7 linked regions of the Homo sapiens genome follow. The protein of the gene in region 4 purifies or fractionates together with the protein of the main gene of each other region. This does not show direct contact. Each region holds a gene or a part of one and is shown on either strand. Other genes may lie near its edges. The genes, in order: REPS2, NDUFA12, NUMB, BMP2K, UTP25, PPP1R2B and PIP.

What was found.
Region 1: the proteins of BMP2K (region 4) and REPS2 purify together in Homo sapiens (affinity purification with mass spectrometry, with the first as the bait; one large-scale study listed by BioGRID). This does not show direct contact.
Region 2: the proteins of BMP2K (region 4) and NDUFA12 purify together in Homo sapiens (affinity purification with mass spectrometry, with the first as the bait; one large-scale study listed by BioGRID). This does not show direct contact.
Region 3: the proteins of BMP2K (region 4) and NUMB purify together in Homo sapiens (affinity purification with mass spectrometry; 2 studies listed by BioGRID and IntAct, with this or other methods). This does not show direct contact.
Region 5: the proteins of BMP2K (region 4) and UTP25 purify together in Homo sapiens (affinity purification with mass spectrometry, with the first as the bait; one large-scale study listed by BioGRID). This does not show direct contact.
Region 6: the proteins of BMP2K (region 4) and PPP1R2B purify together in Homo sapiens (affinity purification with mass spectrometry, with the first as the bait; one large-scale study listed by BioGRID). This does not show direct contact.
Region 7: the proteins of BMP2K (region 4) and PIP purify together in Homo sapiens (co-immunoprecipitation; one large-scale study listed by IntAct). This does not show direct contact.

Annotation. Positions count from the first base shown.
Region 1 is NC_000023.11:16,949,658-16,953,157, forward strand, and holds part of REPS2 (ralBP1-associated Eps domain-containing protein 2), read left to right. Parts: intron 1-3,500. UniProt on the Homo sapiens protein: Involved in ligand-dependent receptor mediated endocytosis of the EGF and insulin receptors as part of the Ral signaling pathway. By controlling growth factor receptors endocytosis may regulate cell survival.
Region 2 is NC_000012.12:94,972,698-94,976,197, forward strand, and holds part of NDUFA12 (NADH dehydrogenase [ubiquinone] 1 alpha subcomplex subunit 12), read right to left. Parts: intron 1-3,500. UniProt on the Homo sapiens protein: Accessory subunit of the mitochondrial membrane respiratory chain NADH dehydrogenase (Complex I), that is believed not to be involved in catalysis. Complex I functions in the transfer of electrons from NADH to the respiratory chain.
Region 3 is NC_000014.9:73,448,547-73,452,046, forward strand, and holds part of NUMB (protein numb homolog), read right to left. Parts: intron 1-3,500. UniProt on the Homo sapiens protein: Regulates clathrin-mediated receptor endocytosis. Plays a role in the process of neurogenesis.
Region 4 is NC_000004.12:78,873,850-78,877,349, forward strand, and holds part of BMP2K (BMP-2-inducible protein kinase), read left to right. Parts: intron 1-3,500. UniProt on the Homo sapiens protein: May be involved in osteoblast differentiation.
Region 5 is NC_000001.11:209,830,972-209,834,471, reverse strand, and holds part of UTP25 (U3 small nucleolar RNA-associated protein 25 homolog), read right to left. Parts: coding exon 3,429-3,500; intron 1,288-3,428; coding exon 1,114-1,287; intron 1-1,113. UniProt on the Homo sapiens protein: Component of the ribosomal small subunit processome for the biogenesis of ribosomes, functions in pre-ribosomal RNA (pre-rRNA) processing. Essential for embryonic development in part through the regulation of p53 pathway.
Region 6 is NC_000005.10:156,849,019-156,853,028, reverse strand, and holds PPP1R2B (protein phosphatase inhibitor 2 family member B), read right to left. Parts: upstream 2,735-4,010; 5' UTR 2,467-2,734; coding exon 1,849-2,466; 3' UTR 501-1,848; downstream 1-500. UniProt on the Homo sapiens protein: Inhibitor of protein-phosphatase 1.
Region 7 is NC_000007.14:143,135,077-143,137,657, forward strand, and holds part of PIP (prolactin-inducible protein precursor), read left to right. Parts: intron 1-117; coding exon 118-223; intron 224-2,581.

The sequences.
Region 1 (3,500 bases), on a different chromosome or scaffold from region 4:
TCAGCCTCCCAAAGTGCTGGGATTACAGGCGTGAGCCACCATGCCTGGCCTTAACATATTTTTTAATAGACTATTTTTTTTTTTCAGAGCAGTTTTAGGTTCACAGCAAAATTTAGCAGAGTACCCATATATCCCCTGCCCCGACACACCCGTAGCTTTCCTTACTCTCAACGTCCCACATCAGAATAATAGAGTTTTTACAATTGATGAACCTACATTGACACCTCATTATTCCCCAAAGTCTATATATTAGGGCTCACTCTTGGTGTTGTACATTCTGTGGGTTTGGACAAATGTATAATGACGGTTCCACCATTGTAGTATCATACAGAATAGTTTCACTGCTCTAAAAATCTGTGCTCTATTGATTCATCCCTCCCTCTCCACTAACATGTGGCAATCACTGATTTTTTTTTTTTTTTTACTGTCCCCATAGTTTTGCCTTTTTTAGAATGTCATATAGTTGGAGTCATACAGTATATAGGCTTTTCACTTTGGCTTCTTTCATGTAGTACTATGCACTTAAAATTCCTTCATGTCTTTTTATGGTTTGGTGGCTCATTTCTTTATAGTGCTGAATAATATTCCATTGTCTGCATGTACTACAATTTATTTATTCACCTACTGAAGGATATCTTGGTTGCTTCCAAGTTTGGGCAATTATGGATAAAGCTGTTATAAACATCTGTATGCAGCCTTTTTTGTTACATGCAGGAGATAAGCTTTTGACTCATTTGGGTAAATAGCAAGGGGCATGATTGCTAGATTGTATGGTGAGAGTATATTTAGTTTTATAAGAAACTGCCAAACTGCTTTCCAAAGTGATTGTACCATTTTGCGTTCCCATCAGCAATGCATTGGTTTCTTTACAGAGTATTTATTTTCCTTTGCTGACTTATTTTAACAGCAGGATTCTAGCACTAGGTGGAAAACGTATATGAGTTTCTGATGTGTGTCAGGTACTGTCCTAGGTGCTGAGGTTATAATAGTGAATCCAACACAATCTCTGTCTTCATGGAGCTTATGTTCTCATGTGAATGTTTTTACACTTCAGAGTTTTTATTTGGTTGAGAAAAGACTTGAAATATAACATCCAAAAATAAAATGTCAGCCTGGTGCTGTGGCGCACGCCTGTAGTCCCAGTGCTTTGGGAGACCAAGGATGGGAGGATTGCTTGAGGCCAGGACTTTGAGATCAGCCTGGGTAACATAGTGAGACCCTGTCTCTACACAAAATAAAATAGCCGGGCATGGTGGCATGCGCTTGTAGTCCTAGCTACTCTGGAGGCTGAGGCAGGAGAATTGCTTGAGCCCAGGAGTTCAAGGTTATAGTGAACTATGATCGCACCATTGCTCTCCAGCGTAGGCAACAGAGCAAAACCCTGTATCAAAATAAAGTAAAATAAGCCTGTCAAACCCAAACCAAATACATGTCAAACCCAGACCTGATTCTTACCACACACTATGCCTTCTAGTAAAATTCTGGCCTTTGAATACCAACAAAATACTTCATAACCTGGGAAACCAACTACTCTAACGTTTGTTGCTCTGTCTTGAAATACTAAACAAAACCATTTACCTGTTCGTAGACATATTTTCTTTTTCTAGTTTAAAAGTATCCCATTCTGCCATTTTCCACCTAGTGCTAGAATCCTGCTCTTAAAATAAGTCAGCACAGGGAAATAAATACTCTATAAAGAGACCAAAAGACCTTTCAAAATAGGCTATGGCCAGGCCCAGTGGCTCACGCCTATAAATCCCAGCACTTTGGGAGTCTGAGGTCGGAGGATTACTTGAGCCCAGGAGTTCTAGACTAGCCTGGGCAAGATGGCAAAACCCCATCTACACACACACACACACACACACACACACACACACACACACACACACACACACACACACACCCCCGCTACCTACCTCTCTCTGGGGCATGCCTGTAGTCCCAGCTATTCTGGAGGCTGAGGTGGGAGGATCCCTTGAGCCCAGGAGTTTGAGGCTGCAATGAGCCATTATGACACCACTGCACTCCAGCCTGGGTGAAAGAGCCAGACCCTGTCTCATAAAATAAATAAGTAAATAAATAAAATATCTACCTTAAAGCAGCAAGTTTTGTATTTGATGTAATGAATTAACAGACCGCTTTATAATATCTATCTTTTAGGATAGTGTCAGTCTCTTGGAATGCTGTGCATGAGTCATCATTAAAATTGGTTTTCATTAAAAAAATTTTTTTAACATATACACATCTTATTGGAGTTTTCTTTTAAAATTCAAAAATGGGAACATTATTTTTTCAAAGCCAAGTAACAGAAGAGTATATAAAAAAGTCAATTTTGTGCATATCTTTTTACATTTTCTATGCTCATGTAAAACATACATGACTTATGTAATTATACACATATGCTCCAGATCTCATCTGTATTAATTTTTTAAATTATACTTTAGTTCTGGGATACACTTGGAGAACGTGCAGTTTTGTTACATAGGTATATATATGTGCCATGGTGATTTGCTGCACCCATCAACCCATCATCTACATTAGGTATTTCTCCTAATGCTATCTCTCCCCTAGCCCTGCACCCCTGAATAGGCCCCGGTGTGTGATGTTTCCCTCCCTGTGTCCATGTTTTCTCATTGTTCAGCTCCCACTTATGAGTGAGAACATGCGGTGTTTGGTTTTCTGTTCCTGTGTTAGTTTGCTGAGAATGATGGTTTCCGGCTTCATCCATGTTGGTTTTCATTTTTGTGATAGTTAATTCTTGGACATTAAGGGGAATAATTATAAAACACTGTTGCTTCCATATCAAGGGAAATCACTGAATGATTAAAAAAAACCCAATAAGTGTTGTCTGATTGTTTAAACAGCTTTCATTGAGGTAAATAAGTAAAACAAAGCTGTGAGAAGTAGGGAATATTTAAACAATTTGTGCGCATGCCCTCACCTTTGGGGAGAAGTCTTTTCTGAAGGCTCTCTTCTGATTTTTTGAAGCAACTGTTTAATCATTAAAGAAAATTATAGGTAAAAGACAAATTCTTGTGAACTTTCGCTCATTGCTAGATTATTAGGCAGAACTATTTTTTAAAAATTTAAATGAAACAACTTTATATTTTTACATCTTTAGATCATATCATTTTGTAACTATACTTTAGGGAAATAGAGGCCAGCATATTAAAACAGTAACTAGGGGCTGGGCAGGGTGGCTCATTGCCTGTAATCCTAGCACTTTGGGAGGCCGAGGCGGGCAGATCAGCTGAGGTCAGGAGTTTGAAACCAGCCTGGCCAACATAGCGAAACCCCATCTCTACTAAAAATACAAAAATTAGCAGGAGAATTGCTTGAACCGGAGAGGCGAAGGTTGCAGTGAGCTGAGATCAGGCCATTGCACTCCAGCCTGGGAGACAAGAGTGAAACTCTGTCTCAAAAACAAACAAACCAAAAAACAAACACACACACACACACACACACACACACACACACACACACACACAAACACACAAACC
Region 2 (3,500 bases), on a different chromosome or scaffold from region 4:
GAGAAAAAAGTTAAATCGACCCCCAATTCACAAATATTTCAGTCATAAGTGCTTAACAATTTAAGAGGATATGTTCCAGAAATCAGACCTAAAAGCTGGATACCTGGAGTTGAAAGGGAAGAGACCACCGATGCTGCTGCTAATGACAGGGAAAGGAGGAATCAAAGTTTGTGGGACAGAGTGCAGGAAGCTAAGCTGAGGGGTTTACATGGGAAAGAAGGGAAGACAGAATTTGTCCCAGCCTCTAAGACCTGGAGCTCACAAGACAGAGATGACCTTATTGGGGGAAAAGAAAATGAGAAGACAGCCACAGAACTGCAGCCCGGGGGTGGGGGGAAAAGTGATTATCTAGCTGCAGAGAAAAGGACAAGAGGAGGATGTTTCAGTGGAATAACTAAAACTAAAGCTAATGAGAAAAAATTTTTGTTGCTATGTAAACCTAAGAATATTTGCTAGCAGTAATTGATAGATATAGCTAGGTAACTGACTAAAAACCAGTCTGAATAGAGATAAAATATGATTACAGTTGCTATGTTTATGTCTAAAGATAATTGTATCATGATCAGCTTATACAATGAAGAATGCAGAAGGCTGTACAAGCTAGGTCAGTGTCTGTCTTACATCCTCTAAAGGAAGCTGGGGATTAGTGAAAGTGACCTGGACCAATAAACTGTAACCATTCATATGAGCACACGAGCGCTGAAGCCCTTATGAGACGATAGTGGTGAGCCAGGCTCCACTAACCACTCAGAGGAGGGATTAGCTGTTAAAGTCAAGGCTGTCACTTATCAAGGGGCTTTATGTGAGCTTACGGCACAGCTGAAATATTTAACTTTTACCTCACTGAGTCAGCTTAACTAAAGAAAAATTTTATTCAAAAAATTGCTGTCAAGACTCCGGAAGGTTAAAATGATATTTAAGGAACCATAGTCCCAAGCTTATGCCTATTCAGTTACTTAAGTGAGGAAGTGAAGAGCTCATGGAGAAATGGAAAATGCTCCAAAAAAGGAAAAGATAATTTTTATCACAATACACAAAATCTGAAAATATTTATCCTAGCAAGCCTACATGCAAGAATCAGGGAATTAATAAATAATAAACTATACCCATTATGGCAGTTTATAAAGAATTATAAGAAATAAGGAAATGTTTATAGTCTGCTAGGCAAATATAACCCTTGTTATTTTATTATTAAATAAGGGGTAAAAAAAAATCATATCTTTCAGATTGCCACACCAGAGAGTTTTACTTGCAAAACAGACTCTTGGGTCTTTTTTTTTTTTTTTTTTTTTGAGACAGAGTCTTGCTCTGTGGCGCAGGCTGGAGTGCAGTGGTGATATCTTGGCTCACTGCAACCTCTGCCTCCTGGGCTCAAGTGATTCTCCTGCCTCAGCCTCCCGAGTAGCTGGGATTACAGGCGCATGCCATCATGCCGGGCTAATTTTTTTATTTTTAGTAGAGACGGGGTTTCACCATGTTGTCCAGGCTGGTCTCGAACTCCTGGCCTCCAGTGATTTGCCCGCCTCGGCCTCCCAAAGTGCTGAGATTAAGGCTACCGCTCTGGTCCACAAGGAGCAGTAAAAAAAACCTACAATGAGATATTATCTCATCCCAGTTAAAATGGCTTTTATACAAAAGACAGGCAATAATAAATGCTGGGAGGATACGGAGAAAAGGGAACCCTCAAACACGTTGGTGGGAATGTAAGTTAGTACAACCATTATAGAGAACAGTTAGGAAGTTCCTCAAAAAACTAAAAATTGAGCTACCATATGATTCAGCAATGATGCTGCTGGGTATAACCTAAATGAAAGGAAATCAGTATATCGAAGAGACTTTTGCACTCCGATGTTTGTTGCAGCATTGTTCACAACAGCCAAAATTTGGAAGCAACCTAAGTGTCTGTCAACAGATGAATGAGTAAAGAAAATGTGATACTTAAATACAATGGGGTACTATTCAGCCATAAAAAAGAACAACATCCTGTCATTAGTAACAACATGGATGGAACTGGAGATCATTACGTTAAGTGAAATAAGCCAGGTACAGAAAGACAAACATTGCATGTTCTCATTTATTTGTGATACTTAAAACTCAAAACAATTGCACTCATGGAGATAGAGAGTAGAAGAATGATTACCAGAGGCTGGGAAGGGTAGTGGGGTTGGTTTGGGGATTAGGGGGAGGTGGGGATGGTTAATGGGTATAAAAAAAAATAGTCAGAAAGAATGAATAAGACCTAGTATTTGACAGCACAACACAGTGACTATAGTCTATAATAACTTAATTGTACATTTTAAAACAACTAAAAGAGTATAATTGGATTGTTTGTAACACAAAGGACAAATGCTTGAAGGGATGGGTACCCCATTTTCCATGATGTGATGATCACATATTGCATGCCTGTGTCAAAACATCTCACCCCATAATATATACACCTACTATGTACCCAAAAAATTAAAATTGTTTTTAAAATTGAAAAGTGTATGTCCTAAAACACTATAAACAGGATTAAAGACTAAAAGAAACAGGGGAAAATATTTGTAATATACAGAAAAAAGGTTCATCTATCATTACAAATCAGAAAAAGTCAAATATCCAATAGAAAACTGGACAAAAAACATCAAGAGATGTCAACAAAGAAAAAATTATAGTGGCAAACAATGAAGTTTAATCAAGGCAATGCACATTAAGGTATAATTTTTTACTTGCTAAATTAGCAAAGATTTTAAAAAATAAAACCCAGAATCAGTGAACTTAAAGAGAAATCAGTACTCATATACTATTCAATATATTTATCCTGAGAATATAAATTGGTATAGCCCTTCTAGAGGGCAATTTGGCAGCAGGTATCAAAAACTTATAAAACATGTATACTCCTGGTGGATCCATTTCCATTTAAGGAAATGAGGATATGAATACTCATGTACAAGGATATTTATCAGAGCTTTATTTATAACAGTGAAAGAATGGAAAGAACAAAACCAAAAATAAAGGGAATAGCTCATGGCATATCCATATGATGGAAGACTAAGGCATTATTAACATTTATGCTATAGATAATATTTTGGCCAGGTATGGTGCCTCACACCTGTAATCCTAGCACTTCTGGAGGCCAAGGTGGGAGGATCGCTTGAGGCCATGAGTTCGAGACCAGCCTGGGCAACATGAGACCCCATGTCTACAAAAAATGCAAAAATTAGCCAGGCATGGTGGCAGGCACCTGTAGTCCTAGCTACTTGGGAGGCTGAGGCAGGGATCACATGAGCCCAGGAGTTCAAGGCTGCAGAAAGCCATGATCGTGCCTGGACAGCGGGGGATCCCATTTCTAAAAAAAGAGAAGAGAGAGAGAGACAGAGAATATTTTATGACTTGAGAAAATGTTCACCATATATGTTTTAAAAGCGGGTTATTTGCCTAATTTATTTAATACTTATAGATAGCATTTATAAGTCATGGGCACTAATCTATACACTTTACAAATATTAACCTATTTGATC
Region 3 (3,500 bases), on a different chromosome or scaffold from region 4:
TCTAAGGAAGATACAGGGCTTAAATTCTGAAATAAAAACTATTTCTACTTGAATTGCGAAGATAAATATATTAACTCCAGGGAAAAATAAGCTGGTTCTAACTGGCATTTAGAACTAATTTAAAATCATTAACAATATCAGTAAATAAAATAATTCAATAAAAGCAATGATTTTAATAACAAAATCAGTAAATAATATAATGCTCAATTGTTTTTTTCTAGTAGTAGGATTAATGGTTTCCACTGTTGTCAAAAACTCACATGTATTTGGAAGAGGACCAGGTACAGTCACATCTTGGTATCTGAGGGGGACTCGATCCAGGACCCCATGGATACCAAAATCTGCAGATATCCCAGTTCCTTATGTATAATGGCATAGTACAGTCGGTCCTCTGTATCCATGGGTCCCACACAGGAGGATTCAACCAATCTTGCATCAAATATATTCGGAAAAAAAAATGGATGGTTGTAATGAACATGTACCTACTTTTCTTTCTTGTCATTATACCCTAAACAATACAGTATAACTATGTACATAACATTTATATCATATTAGGTTGGTGTAAAAGTAATTGTGTTTTTGCTATTACTTTTAATGGCAAAAGCTGTAATTACTTTTGCACCAACCTAATATTAAGTATTATAATTAATCTAGAGAAATAATTCAAAGTATACGGGAGAATGTGTGCAGGTTATATGTAAATACTACACCATCTTATATAAGTGACCTGTGCATCTATGGATTTTGGTATATTGGGGTCCTGGAATCAATCCCCCACTGATACCTGTATTTGCATATAACCTGCACACATTCTCCCATATATGTTATATAATCTCTAGATTACTTATTAATATAATACCTAATACAATGTAAAAGCTATGTAAATACTTATACTGTATTTATTCGTATTATTTGTATTGTTTTATTTTTTATTGGGTTTTCTTTCCAAATATTTTCTATCAACTGCTGGTTGAATCCAAGGATGCAGAATACACAGATAAGGGCTGACTATAATATGATAGATAAACAGCCTGTGACCACACAACAAAATATTAGCTTCATTTACCCCATGTTTCAGTCTAATACACCAAAATAAACCAACCACAAAAACAAACTGAAGTAGTAAATGTTTAAAATATATGTAATGTTTTGGTGTTTGTTTTTTGATACAGAGTCACACTCTGTCGCCCAGGCTGGAGTGCAGTGGCTCGGCTCACTGCAACCTCTGCCTCCCAAGTTCAAGCAATTCTCCTGCCTCAGCCTCCTGAGTAGCTGGGATTACAGGCATGCACCACTACTCCCAGCTAATTTTTGTATTTTTAGTAGACACGGGCTTTCGCCATGTTGGCCAGGCTGGTCTCGAACTCCTGACCTCAGGTGATCCGCCCACTTTGGCCTCCCAAAGTGCTGGGATTACAGATGTGAGCCACCGCGCCCAGCCTTAAAATACCTGTAATGTTTTAAAGTCGACTCTGGTTTTCCTAGCTGCCACAATGCTTACAATAACAGTATCTGGAATATTAGCCCATCCTAAAAGAGAAGTCTATAATAGATCTAATGTGATAATTATTAATAATTAACAATTACAATTTGTTAAGTGCCCACTATGGGCAAAATGCTATACACTACACAAAATGCTTTTCATTTAATTCTCACCATCACCCTGATGTGGAGGATAGCATAAGCTCCATTTTATGGATGACGAAACTGAATCTAAAAGAAGTTTAATAAACTGCTCAATTAGTAAATTAACGATAAAGTCAAGATTCAAAATCATGGTCACACAATTATAATGAATTTTGTCCATTCTGTCATGCTGCCTCTGGACATAAATGATGCTCTTTCAATTTCATAACATGGCAGTCACAAATATATTTCTGTCATCAGCAGGCTATTCTATGGTTCTGTGAGATACTAGTTTGGAGGAAAAAAAAGTTTTATCTTGATTAAAGAATACTGGGAGCTAGGCTGGGCGCAGTGGCTCACGCCTGTAATCCCAACACTTTGGGAGGCCAAGGCAGGTGGATTACTTGAGGTCAGGAGTTTGAGATCAGCCTGGCCAATATGGCGGAACCCTGTTTCTACTAAAAATACAAAAATTAGCCGGGCGTGGTGGCACACGCCTGTAATCCCAGCTACTCGGAAGGCAGGATAATCGCTTGAACCTGATAGGCGGAGGTTGCAGTGAGCCGAGATCGTGCCACAGCACTCCAGCCTGGAAGACAGAGCGAGACCCCATCTTAAAAAAAAAAACAAAACAGAATACTGGGAGTTAAAACTTCTTATAACAAAGTCGCTTATATTAAAAGAAATTAAGTAAATAAACCAAACGCAGTGACTCACGCCTGTAATCCCAGCACTTTGGGAGGCCGAGGCAGGAGGATCACTTGAGGCCAGGAGTTCAAGACTAGCCTGAGCAACACGGTGAAATCCCGTCTCTACTAAAAATACAAAAAAGTTAGCTGGGCATGCTAGTTGGCACCTGTAATCCCAGCTACTTGAGAGGCTGAGGCAGGAGAATTGCTTGAACCCAGGAGGCGGAGGTTGCAGTAAGCCAAGATTGCACCATTGCACTCTATCCTGGGCGACAGAGCAGGACTCTGTCTCAAAAAAAAAAAAAAAAAAAAACAAAAAACAAATCTACACTTCGGGAGGCTGAGGCAGGCAGATCACGAGGTCAGGAGTTCAATACCAGCCTGGCCAATATGGTGAAACCCCATCTCTACTAAAAATACAAAAAACTAGCCAGGTGTGGTGGCGTGTGCCTGTAGTCCCAGCTATTCGGGAGGCTAAAGCAGGAGAATTACTTGAACCCACAAGGCGGAGGTTGCAGTGAGCCAAGATTGAGCCACTGCACTCCAGCCTGGGCAACAGAGGAGACACCGTCTAAAAAAAAAAAAAAAAAACCTACAACAAAAATTAGCCAGGCATAGTGGCATGCCCCTGTAGTCCCAGCTACTCGGTAGCCTGACGCAGGACAATTGCTTGAACCTGGGAGGTGGAGATTTCAGTGAGCCGAGATTGTGCCACTGCACTCCAGCCTGGGCATCTTTAAATAAAATAAATTAAGTAAATAAACCTTCACAAATTATCTACATGATAAAATCAAAATGTACCTGAGATGTACATATGCACAAGTGACTAGACGAAAGTATCACTATTACTTTTCCAAAGTCAAAGGTAACCAAGGCCAATCTTAAATAAAGTTACAAATTTAGCTGATTTCTGTGTCCCTGGTTGCCCCAGCTTTGCCTTTATTCAGAGCTAAGCAGTATTCTACAGTTTTTCCCTCTTCTTCCCTAATTAAACTAGAAATGTTCCAAATTAACTATAATTCACCTTAATATAATCAAGTTACCATAATTAAGATTTTGCTGTCCTACTCAGGTAATTGAAGACTTTGATCTTGGTTAAAAGAACGTAAGATAGCCTGAGCACGGTAGCTCATGCCTGTAATCCCAACACTTTGGGAGGACTGCCTGAGTTTAGGAGTTTAACAA
Region 4 (3,500 bases):
AGGAGAGAGCAGAGTATAGGTCAAAGGCCAGTTTAAAGGTCCAGATCAGGCAGGGTGCGGTGGCTCATGCCTGTAATCCAAGCACTTTGGGTGACCAGGGCAGGCGGATCACGAGGTCAGGAGATCAAGACCATCCTAGCCAACATGGTGAAACCTCATCTCTACTAAAAATATAAAAATTATCTAGGTGTGGTGGTGCGCGCCTGTAATCCCAGCTACTTGGGAGGCTGAGGCAGGAGAATGGCTTGAACTTGGGAGGCAGAGATTGCAGCGAGCTGAGATCATGCCACTGCACTCCAGCCTGGCAACAGAGCGAGACTCCATCTCACACACACACACACACACACACACAAAAAGTTCAGATCAGTATTTGCCGAACTCTTTGTCATTTATCTACTCTAGTTAAAATTTTTTGCTTTATTCACATAGTGCTTTTTTCTTTAATAAATTAGTAACATTATTGTGTATAATAAAATTAAAACATATTATACATTTTAAACAAATAAGATCCACTAAAATATAAAGTATGAAATGTAAATAGTAATCTAATAAATTTGCTAAGTCCCCTAGTGATAAGAATGGAATAATTTTCCTCATTAAAAATCAGATATTCTGCTTGATAATTGCTTAAAGATACTGATGAGGCTATTGTACTAATTAGATGATTGCTTTTTTCCACTTTTGATGCTAACTAGCATAAAAAATGTCAAATCTAGTTTATTTAGTTGGAAAATAGAAAAGATATTAACTGTCTTCTCTGACGTAGCATATATATTGTGTATACTTCATATTCTAAAAGTCTGTCAGCTCCTGGAAGCAAAGTTATGTCACTGTTGAGAATGGGATGATGAATTGGAAATCTGTCTAAACTTCTGATTAGTTAAAAAGAAAGTTGGATATCCAAGGATTTGAGGCATACACTGGCATGCAAGGTGCTGATGCCTGTAATGTATATTAATTACTATAGCACTGTCTGCTTTATTCTCATTTGTAGTGATGCTATTCGACAAATCACAGGTTTGATACATTAGACACTTTTCTTTTAATTTCTGTGTAACTATTAAAAAATAAGTTATCACAAAAATCATCTTGCATTCCCCAGGTTAGGAAATATTGGGTTGCATATCTGGGAAAGTGCATAAGACTTGTTTTACTCCACTCCTATGAAATTTATGTATTTAAGGATGTGTTAGAAAAAATTATACACTCAGCCACTAAAGGTTAGAAATGTGGAACTTCATGTGGGAACATTGCTCCAGCCACACTTGGTACGTCAATGCTACTTCATTAATATTATACCTATTTAACATCAGATTGTATGTTGAGTATAGTATCTTCTGTAACAATTTAAAAAGAGCTCTAAACTAATGTTCCTGCTTATGACAAAGTCAGTGGAAGAAGAGAATTGGGGTTAAATGTTTGTCTCTCAGTGGATAAGGGCTATTTGAGTAGAATATAAGAAACCAAGTAGTAGTTCCTTAGACAGAGGGAAAGAGTCACTATCTTTGTTGGAATAATTATTTCCTTTTCTTTTCTACTATCTTTTGCTAAACTTTCTACTCTTCCACCATGTTAATTTATCTTTAGTATGAATATCAGAGAGTATTACTGTGTTATATTCCAATAATAGTTAAAATAAACATCATCTATGCATACGTTATCTTCTTATGATATAATTGCCCTGTTATATTAGTTATCTGTTGATGCCTAATAAATTATCTCAAAACTTAATGGTTTAAAACAGCAGTTAACATTTATTATCTTACATACTTTCTTTGGATCAGAAATTTAGGGGTGGCTTAACAGGGTGGTTGTGTCTGGTAAGGCTGGGTCGGCTGTCCTCTGAAGGCTTGGCTGGTGATAAAGGATGTAATTTACAAGATAGTTCACTCACATGGCTTTGGGCAGGAGGCTTCAGTCCCCTGCCACATGGATTTCTTCAAAAGACTGCTTGAGTTTTCTCTTTGCCAAGGCAAAAATTATTTTGAACAAGGAATTATTGATTCTGGTTTCTCCCTCAATAAGTGATCCAAGAGACAGAGCAAGGAGGAATCTGAAATGTCTTTTTAGACCTAGTCTCAGCAGTCATGGGCTGCTGCTTGTGCCATATTTCATTTGTTAGAATTGAGTCACTAGATCTAGCTCATGTTCAAGGGCAGTGAAATTCGGTTTCACCCTTCGAAGGGAGGAATGTCAGATAACTTGTAGACATTTTTTAATACCTGTTTAAACTAGGTTAAGGTGATAACCCTATTGAGTTACAGTCTGCCAATAGGAATCCATAAATTTATTTTGGGAATAGGAAGAGGGTGATTCATATAGGGAATCCGAAAGTTCTAAAAGGAATGATTGACAGACAGGAGGGGGGATGCCCATCTCTCTTTGAGTTTTACCCACTGTGATCTGTTTTTTTTTTTCCTTCAATTTTCTGGGTAAAAACATCTGATCTGTGTTTTAAGGAGAGATGGGACTCTGTCACACAGAGGCAGGCTCAGACTGGCAGTTAATGCATCCAGAATGGACTTTAAACTGAATTGTTTTTTAAATTAAGATACCTAAGTTCTATTTACTAAGCAAGTCTATTTACTTGTAGGTAACTTACTATTTATTTTCCTCTGTTATATGCTAGCCTTCAGTAAGTATTTAAGTATCCTATTCTTGGCTCAGATATGCTGAAGGGGCTTGGACTAAGGGATTAAATAGACGACTTTTGCCTTTCTTTTCTCTTCTAAGACCTGTTTGGTGGCAATGGCAATGAGCTCTCAACGGTTAGGTAAATTTAGGGGATCAGTTAAGACTTGTGAAATTGAGATACTACTTTGAACATTAGGATTCTCCCTTCATTACTACTGTTAAGAGGATTTGCATATGAATTATGAAAGGAACTTAATAGCTTTCTTACATTGTCTCGTTCTTATGCTATACAGTCATGCATTGCATAACAATGGGGACATGTTCTAAGAAATTGCATCATTAGGCAATTTTATTGTTGTATGAACATCATAGAGTGCATTTACACAAACTTAGATGGTATAGCCTACTACACATCTAGGCTTTATTATATAGCTTATTGCTCTTACGCTACAAACCTGTATAGCATGTTACTATATTTAGTACTATAGACAATTGTAACAGAATGGTAAGTATTTTTGTATCTAAACATAGAAAAGGTAAAATAAAAATATTGTATAAAGGATTAAAAATGGTACATCTGTATAGGGCACTTACCATGAATGGAGCTTAGAGGACTGGAAGTTTTTCTGGGTGGGTCAATGAGTGAGTCGTGAGTGAACGTGAAGGCCTAGGACATTACTGTACACTATTATAGACTTGACTTTATAAACACTGCATTCTTAGAACACACTAAATTTATATAAAATTTTTTTCTTCTTCAATAATAAATTAACCTTAGTTTACTGTGACTTTTTTACTTTATAAACTTTGAAAATTTAAAAACATTTTGACTCTTTGGTTATAACACAAAACACAAACATGTACAA
Region 5 (3,500 bases), on a different chromosome or scaffold from region 4:
TGCACTGGGACACACAGATATGACCAATACTCCACTGAATTGAACAAATGATCCACATGATAGCATCTGCACTCCAAGTAATCTTTAGTATTCTGAGCTAGCCACCCAACCTTCTCTCCCAGTCCCACTCATAAGAAACAGAACAAAGTTAAATGACCCATCCAAGCATCCAAACAGTAAAATTTCAAATGAAATGCATCTTGTATTAAATATCTAAGAGTGAACAACAGGACATAAGAATTCTAGATGCTAATATATCTGTATGAGCAAAACAACCACAGAAATTATGGGACAGTCAAGCTTCCTAATGTTTCCTCCAAAGTTTCTAAGTTTTAATGGTTCAGAATGGAGTTTGTACTAAAATCTACAAATTCTACCTGTCACTTCTTCTCCTGCAAAATAACCAACAGAACTAAATGAGTCAAATGAGGATTAAAATTTCTGTTTCATTAAAGGTAAAGCTGGGTTGAAGAATGGCAATGAGATCAATGAAGGCAATCAGGATACAGAACGAGACCAACCTGACTTGCCCACCCAGACACTGGCTGAGAAACTGGACTTGAGACAGCAGGAACCCATCAAAGCCCGCCATAGGCACGTCTTGACCACGTGACTGCCATTTGGTCACAGGAGTGGTCAAGAGTCTGTGGGAGGCAGGAGACACAGGGTAGGGCTTTTTGGCTTTTGAGGGTCTCCCTGGTAATAAAGACCACTCAGATTAGCCACCCCTGGGTCTTGCAAATCTGAAAAATTACTGCTCCAAAAAGGAACAGCAAGTGAGGGGTAGAGGAAGTATTTTTTCCTCTTTTTCTTTCTCTTTCCCTACTTGGGGAGAAAATCAGAAATCTTCCCCTGACTCCAATAATGAAAATGTGAGGCCTGGGAAGCTGGCCTTCCCTACCATCATTCTTGTTTGTTCTCCTAAATGTCCCGTCCAACCCCTAAACACTGAGAAACACAAAATACCTTTTAGAATTATTTTTCCCAGCTCTAGATCTAGCCACTAAACTGTTTTTATTGCTGTTTGTTCCAATAATAGATTCAATGTGTATTAGTACACAAATTCCATACTAAGCACCTGGTGAATTCAAATAACACACACTGTGCTATGACCTTGAGAGGCTTTCAAAGAAGAGTTGTCTCCACTTTCCTCTTCCAGAAAATTGGTTTCCAGGCTGAACAGTGACTCGTGTTTTGCATCTGTGAACTCTTCGGGGGATGTTTGTGATGTGCCCGGTGGCTCTTCCCCATCTTCTTTTCCCTCAGGGTCAGCAGATAAAGCTACATCTGCAGTTTTGAGAAACATTTTATAAAATTATTTACTCACAAATTATACTTCTGTTGACAAAATTTATTTCCTTAGGCTATACCAACAATAGCGTTCATTGATACTATTTATATTTAGGTAAATTCAGGTAGAAAACATAGATTTCAAAATTAAGCCTAATCATCAACACATGATGCATGATGGTGGGTTTTATGTCTCAATTTGGCTGGGACACAGTGCCCAGATATCTGGCCAAACATTATTTTGGATGTTTCTGCGAGGGTATTTTTGGATGAGCGTTTATTTATTTATTTATATATTGAGACAGGGTCTGGCTCTGTCACCCAGGCTGCAGTGCAGTGGTGTCATCTTGGCTCACTGCAACCTCCACCTCTTGGGCTCAAGTGATTTTTCCACCTCAGGCTCCCGAGTAGCTGAAACTACAGGCATGCACCACCATGCCTGGCTAATTTTTGTATTTTTCTGTAGAGATGGGGTTTCGCCATGTTGGCCAGGCTGGTCTCAAACTCCTAAGCTCAATCGATCTGCCTGCCTCAGCCTCCCAAAGTGTTGGGATTACAGGCGTGAGCCAGATCTCTTTCTCATATACACACATATCCTACCGGTTCTGTTTCTCTGGAGATTTCGAATTAATATACCCACTTCTAGTTCTAGGAACTTATTCTAAAATAGTAACCAGACATAGTACACTAAGATGTACATGAGAGGATGTTCAAAGCAGCACTGATTATAAGAAATAACTGGGGGAAAAAGGGTCTATCAATGGGGTACAATCATATTTTTACAATGGAATACTATGTAATTAAGAAGCTAATGTGAATCCACAGTCACAGATGTAGGAAGTTACGGAAATGTATAAGGCCATTATACAGATACACATAAATATATATACATACTCATATATAATCATAAAAATGTAGTCTGAAAGGTTATATACAATGCTAAAGGTGTTTATCTCTGGGTAGCAGGGATAGAGGGTAACTATATTACCCTCTTAAATGTTTACAGTAAATATATATTATTTTTATAATGATAAAAAAATTTTCATTTTTAAAAATCCAAAAAAGCAAAGAAAAATAGAAACAAACAAAACAAACTCCTAAGTGTAAGTCAATGAATTTTTATCTCAGTAAAACTGATCAGTTAAAATACCTGGAATGATATATAATACCAGAAGGTATAAAAAAAAAATAAGGCTATAAGAAAAATAGGCATTAAAATAATGAGTAAAAAGTCACCCAGCTATATTCAGACAATGGAATGCTATTCCAGCAACTAAAAAGTAGTAAGTGACTAATACATGCACAACACAAATAAATTAGAAAAACATGAGAAGCAAAAATAGCTAGACACAAAAGGAGTCATACTGTATGATTCAATTTATATGAATTTCTAGAACAGGCAAAACTAATCTACAGTGACAGAAGGCGGGTCAGTGGCTGCCTGATGCCAAGGGTGGGGAACTGACTGCAAAAGGATAAGAAAAATTTTTGGAGGTAATGGAAATGTTCTGTATCTTGATTTGGATGTATACCTTTGTCAAAACCTGTCAGACTGTATATTTAAATTGGATACGTTTTACTGTATGTAAATGATACCTCAATGAAGGTGATTTTGAAGTTAAAGAAAAAAGTCACCTTCAAGTCTGAGTGACACAGAGTCCCTGAAGCCTTCCCTAATTTACACTGGCAGTGTTCAACCACTCTGCCTCTCTTCAACACCTTACATCTAGCTGTTCCATGCAATCGCAAATCTACTGTTTGAAATTTTTTATATATATTTATGTCTATCTTCCATCAAACTTGGTCTCCCTAAGAGAAGAACAGTAACCTCTTCAATAAATTCAGACAGTCACAAAGACAGAACTGTGTTCTCCTTCCTCTGTATTAGGAGGTCTTTCACTAGTACTGATGAAGTCCCTGAAATTACAAGCAAAAATGTTATTTCTGCCTAGCTGTGCTAAGAAGGTTCTGTGTTTCCATCAGATTCTCAAAGATACAATCAAACCCAACAAGGGTAAATCCCTATTTTGGATTCATGTCCTTTCATCCAACTCACACAGTATATAAGGTACCATGCTCATGAGATGAACTGTCTATAGTTCTGGCAAAGATGATGAGCCTATAGTAAAGACACTTACTCTCTGGACTTTCAGTAGACTCTGCAGCCATCTCTTCTTCCACACTGACATCGCTACCACCATCTTCATCGT
Region 6 (4,010 bases), on a different chromosome or scaffold from region 4:
GAACTCAGAAACAAGAAAACCAAAATCAGAGGTTGCATGAATATATGTGCACACATATGTACAGACTTAATCTCTACATCCCCCAAGACAGATTTAAACAGGTAATCCCAAAATTCTAAATTCAGAAACCAGAGATAAACAGTTTTGTTTCTAAATCAGTGGTATTACTAGATGAAATGTTTAGAATACTGCACTTATAGTTCAGCAGTACTTTGATTATATATCTCATTTAAAAAAATCAAAATAATAACCACATTCTTCTAACAGCAAAGAATTCTCCCACTTTTTATTTATTTTGAAATACTGATATTTCTATAAACCTGCAAGTGGAAGATAAGCTGTTCAATAAAAGCCTTATTTTATATATATAAATATATATTATACAGACATTATTTTAGAAGTCTGTTCATATAACAGATTATTTTGGTACTAACGAAAATTGTATACGATTCATCAATTGTATGGCTAGAAATGAAACCATAACCAAACCAAGACACACAGGGCTTTCCTGCACTTCGTTTAAGGAAAATATTCCACATAATTCTTACTGCGTTAGAGGAATAAAGTACATTTGTCATAGTATACATTATCATATTCCCTTAAAGCAGGGACTATTTAAAGTTTTTAAATTAAAAAATGTCCAGGCTTACTTCTGTCTGTACATTCAGGAATAATCATATCACTGGTTACATACAATTCTCATGCAAAGAAAACCCTCAAAAAACAAAAAAAAACCCTCGGTTGTTTTCTTAAGTCTAATTAAGCCAAACTAATAATAGCAATTTAATTAGCAATCTGTAAATCGAGAGGCATAGAAATTCAGCAGTTAAACTGTATTTCCTGCCTATAGTACTGCTGCTACTCAATCTATTTTCTTCATGTATTAGAAGAATTCATAGGCATTGATGGTCAAAATAAGAATTTCCACACAGCAGCAAATGACAGAAGAGTGACAGAAAGAGTTCCTAATGTCGTGACAATCTTAATGATCCTTTAAAAGGTAAAAGATTGTGTGTGTATGTGTGGAAAGGAGTAGGAAATAAAAGCAGGAGGTTAAGACAGGTATTTAAAGGGAATGGCGAGATAGCTACATTAGAATATTTATTTTTTAAAAAACTGCTCTGAAGTCTGCCCAGTGTACCAAAAACATTAAAAAACAAAAACAAACAAACCCCCTGCCAAAAAACAGAGCAGACATTGGTGAAAGTTTAACCTGATAATTTATTTGTGGGGAAAAAAGCTAGTTTTGATGAGAAAAAGTTCAGTCCTTTCCTTGTAAACACAAAGAAACTCAACAGGAATTTTAAAGGTAGTAGGTCAGAAAATGCAACAGTAACTCTTACAATTCTTTTCAATTAAACAGACAAATCAAGTTGAAGAGAAGTGTTAAAATACGATTCAGCTTGAATATTTATAAGTCTATATATCCTGTTGTTCAACTGGCTTTTGATTTTTAAAAAAACAAATCAACAAACTTTGTAAGAGCTACCACATTTCGAGTGATGAAAATAAATTAGTTCCCCCCCAAAGATATTGCTTAACTTCTAAAGCATAAAAAGCTCTATAATATCTTATACAAATTAACCAGTGTTCTTATGAAAGTAATGCAGTTTTGGACTGATGATATTACACTGTATTTGTGGTAAAGTACTAGGCATAAGAATATATATATCAATTAGGCATTTTCAGTCTAATTAGTCTCTAAGTTTATCATTTAATTCTTGGCAATATATAATAACTGGTATGCATTTTGGTACTTAAGTCATGAATTGTGGAGAACAAGAAGCAATGTATTATAGTCACAGGGTTTATATCTAACAAACAATTGCAGTGTTGAACAAATCTCTTCTATGAACTTCGTAATTTGTTTTGCTGTTGGTCACTTGGAGTAGATCCTTGATTTGATTCTTCCGTATTCATGCTTTCTCCATCTGCAGTCTCTAACATTTCTTCATCTTCATCATCATCATGTAGGTCTTTTGAAATTAATTGTCTGGCTAGTTTGATATTGAGTCCTTCATTGTAGTGAAGCTTCCTTCTCATTTCAAATTGTCGCTTTTTTTCTCGTTCTTCAGGTGAGAGGTCACTATCCTCCTCTCCACTGCTTTCTTGTTCCTGAATCCGGTACTTTGGCTCCAAGCCTTCAGCAGCAGCTAATTTCTTGGCTAGGATGTCTGGCGCCATGGCTTCAGTGGTCTCGGTGTCCCTACACGCATCTTCATCATCACCCATCATACTATGGTAAGGAGGGCTTGGTTCATCTATTTTCATTAAACCATAGCCTTTGTCTGCTGGATGATAGGTCGCCAAGATGTTAATTTCATCCCACTTCTGGGATTTTTTGCTCAGCTCCTCGTCGACACTCCTGCGGGGCTGTTCGGCCGACGCCACCATAGAGGAAGTCGTAGAGGTCTTGTTCTTCAAGATCCCCTTGATGGGCCGGTGGGAGGCCGTCGAGGCCGCCATTGCCGGGCGCTCCGGCTGTCGCCTCAGGGTCGCTGCTTGGCGTGGGGTCCGCGAAGAGAAGGGTCGGCACAGCAGAGACTCGCAGGCAGCCGCAGAGCCCGCTCAGGGCTAAAGCGGCCGCACCTGCTGCCTCGGAAACGGCTACTGGAGCGGTTGTCACAACGACCCCGACGCCAGAGCCAACGCCGAATGGGTGGCGGCTCCTCGCGCACCATTAGCCGCCGGCACTTGACCCGCGGCTCGCGGAGAGATGCCGGCCTAGAGCTCCGCGGGGAGTGGTGGGTGGGGGGTGGTGGGTGTGGTGGGGGTGGGGGGGGTGGAGCAAATCCGACGCCCTTTTTCATAGTTCTTTTGTACTGTGGACACCATGAGGCTTACAAAAAAAAACATCTTTATAGATGTAACAAGTTGTAAAGAGATGAAAACTTACAGAGCACGAAAACACAATAGAAACAAACTTTATCCCCCCACCACATTTTGACTTTATATTGTCTCAATTAATATATTTTTATATTGCCTAACTCTTGACGATTACTGTAGCTATTAAAGTTTTTGATTTGTCTTTTAGGCTTTATACTAGAGTTATAAGTGGGTTTCACACCACCTTTACAAGTATTAGGGCATTCTGGATTTTTCTGTGTACTTACAGTGGGTTTTATACCTCAAATGTTTTCTTTTTGCATGGTGGTGGCGGTGGTGATGGTGGTTTTTCTTATCGAAGAATTCCCGATGTGGCACGGTGGCTCATACCTGTAATCCCAGCACTTTGGGAGGCTGAGGTGGTCAGATCACTTGAGGTCAAGAGTTTGAGACCAGCCTGGCCAACATGGTGAAACCTCGTCTCTATTAAAATACAAAAATTAGCTAGGCATGGTGGTGCGTGTCTGTAATCTCAGCTACTTGGGAGGCTGAGGCAGGAGAATTACTTGAACCTGGAAGGTGGAGGTTGCAGTGAGCTGAGATCATGCCATTGCACTCCAACCTGGGTGACAGACTGAGTCTCTGTCTCAAAAGAAAAAAAAAAAAGAATTCCGTTTAGCATTTTTTATAGGATGGGTTTGGTGTTGAATTCTCTCTGCTTTTGTTCGTCTGAGAAAGACTTTATCCCTCCTGTTTGAATGATAGCTTTGCTGGATACAGTAGTCTTTGATGGCAGTTACTTTCTTTCAGCACTTTCAAAATGTCATCCTACTCCCTTCTGGCCTGTGTGGTTTCTGTTGAGAAGTTTGTTGCCAGATGAATTGGAGCTTCTTTATATGTCATTTGCTGCTTTTCTCTTGTTGCTTTTAGGAGTATCTCTTTGTCCTTGACTTGAGAATTTGATTATTATATCCTTTAAAGTACTCTTATTTGGGTTGAATCTGTTTGGTGTTCTCTGACCTTCCTGTACCTAGGTATTTTTCTTTCTCATGTTTTGGAGAGTTTTCTCTTATTATTTCTTTGAATAAGTTTTCTACCCCTTGTTTTTGCTCAGTTCCCACTTGAACATCCATAATTCTTGATTTTTGTCTTTTTAGGCAATTTTTCTCTATATTTTTGTTCCT
Region 7 (2,581 bases), on a different chromosome or scaffold from region 4:
AGCCCCATAATTTCCCTCCCTTGCCCATCCTGTGCCCCTTGCCCTGTTCATGGCTCCCCCCTCACTCAAAGATTGGTCTCTGATCCTGGTGTTCTGATTCTCTCTTCCCACAATCAGTCGGAAGATCATAATAAAGAATTTTGACATTCCCAAGTCAGTACGTCCAAATGACGAAGTCACTGCAGTGCTTGCAGTTCAAACAGAATTGAAAGAATGCATGGTGGTAAGTAGAGGACTGGGGGCGTGACTTCAAAAGATAATTCAACTCCTTGATTATAAACATAATTTAATCTCTCACTTTAATAATGTACAGTGTACTTAATGAAACATTCTCACTTATGTTATGCTACTTGAGACTCAGAACAACTGTGGGAGCTTGGGACAGATGACTTCTCATTTTCCAGATGAAGAAGTTCGAATCCAGAGAAGTCTAGGATAAATAAGAAGGAAAGGAAGAAGGAATAGGAAGTGAGAAAGAGGGAAAAAGAAAAAAGTGTAAGAGCTAGTAGAGAAGCAGTTAGAGTCCTTCCAAGGTCCTGAGCATGTTTAGTTTAGGATGGAGGGAGGGGAGTTCTCAGAAGAGAAAGCAGCAACTCCACACCATAGGTTGAGGTGGGTGGGCAGAAGAGGACATGCAGGATATGACTCCTCCTCTCCAGTAAGCACTGAGCGACTCTACTGTCCTCTTGCCTTCTTCTGCTCCTTTGCTCTGGGTCACCAGAAGTGGACTCTTGTTCCAGCCTCCCCACCCTGACAAGGAGCTCGTAATCATCTCCTCCTTTTCCCCACGTTCAGAAGTCCAATCTCTGAACAAGGTCAGAGGTTTTCAAATGGTAATGTGTCTAAAACTCACTCGGGGATCTTGTTAAAATTCAGAGTTTCATTCAGCAGGTCTGGGGAGAGATTAGAACTTCTGGATTTTAACAGACGCCCAAGGTACACCAAGGCTGTGCCCAAAGGATCACATTTTTGAGCAGCTTGGGATTAGAGCATTATCCCTCCTGTCTAGCTGCCAAGGGCCAGAAGTCAAATAGACTTATGCAGTTATTAATCCACAGTGACTCTTCCCTGGGACACTGGTTGTGTGTCCTTTTCCTAGTCATTGATCTCAGATGTCACAAGCATGCAAACTGCCCCCACTACCTTTGTTCTAGGGCCAAGACCCATGCATCTCCCATCTCCCCTACTCCCTCCCCAGACCCTTCATGAAGGACACCTTCTATCAGGCAGCACAAGTATTTCCTTACAACATAAGTTTCCTAATTCAAATGAGACTTAAGGACAATGATTACATGTAAAACAACATTGAGAACATGAAGATTGCTATTCAGTCAACTGCATTCTAGAAATATCCCCACACCTGTAAAGAAAAATTCCTGGTCAATGAGCAAAGAATATCACAGCTGCTTTGTCAAATTTTTCTATTTTCAGTCCAAGAATCTGAGACATGTACACTAATTTGGGGTAGGAGCAAGGCTGAATCATAATTTTTCAACTCTGTATTTTGTTTATCACAAACACAGGTGAGAATGAGAATAAGAACATGTACATAATGTGTACATAAAATTTTTGTGAAAATGGTGGTTTCTGGTGGTAATAGTTAATGGTAGTGGTAGGTATAATAAGATATGTTTGAATCAATAAAATTACATGTGACATAATTTTGTGCTTTTGTGATTAATAAAAGTATGCTTTTAAGAATCATGCTAGTACTCTAAAATAAAGCAATCTTTTCAAAACCCACCTAAGCACAACTAAAAGAATAAGAAATCTTTAGACTAACTGACTTTGCAAACTAGAAATAATTTACAGGAAAGGAAATTTTGTTAATTCTAGTCAACAAATTTTTATTTGTGGCTTCATTTTTCAAAGTATAACTATTTTTAAATTTTTATTAAAATATATTTATATAACTATAAAATTCTTACCATCTAATCCTCATTTTTTATCATTTATAATGTTTTCTGTAACTGAATTTTTGAAAAAGTGAGGTTTAGACTCATATTTATTTATTTTAGAATTAGAATAGAATATACCTACAATCGTATATTTGAATATAAAGATTGCATAATCCTTTAAAGCTGAAGGAAACTTGTGGCAAAAACAATGCTTAAACATTTTTGTGCTACAGGCCATTTCGTTGGTTTCATGAAGTTTATGAAACATTTATCAGAAAATTGCTTCTAAATGTATAAAGTGCATTGGATTACAGAGAGAAACTACCACATTGAGTAACAGTGACTAACTTGTAAAAAATAAATTTGTGATGCAGTAAGGTATGTGTTTCTTTATGCACACATTAGCTGGGAAAGCAATACATTTAAAATATAGAAGAGTTGAATTTTATTCTATGAACACATTATCTGTGTGATGGATGTTGTTACTTAGCTTGAAGAAGTACATTAAACTGCACTGGTCTTTGGCAACACGTCCCACGTGCCATGCTAGGCATGCAACGGATTCTGATCTTTTATTGTACAAGTGGTGTAAATTCTGATTCATGACGATATGTTGTTGCTAATGTAACAGAAAGGTAAACAAGGCCGGGCACAGTGGCTTGTGCCTGTAATCCCAGCACTTT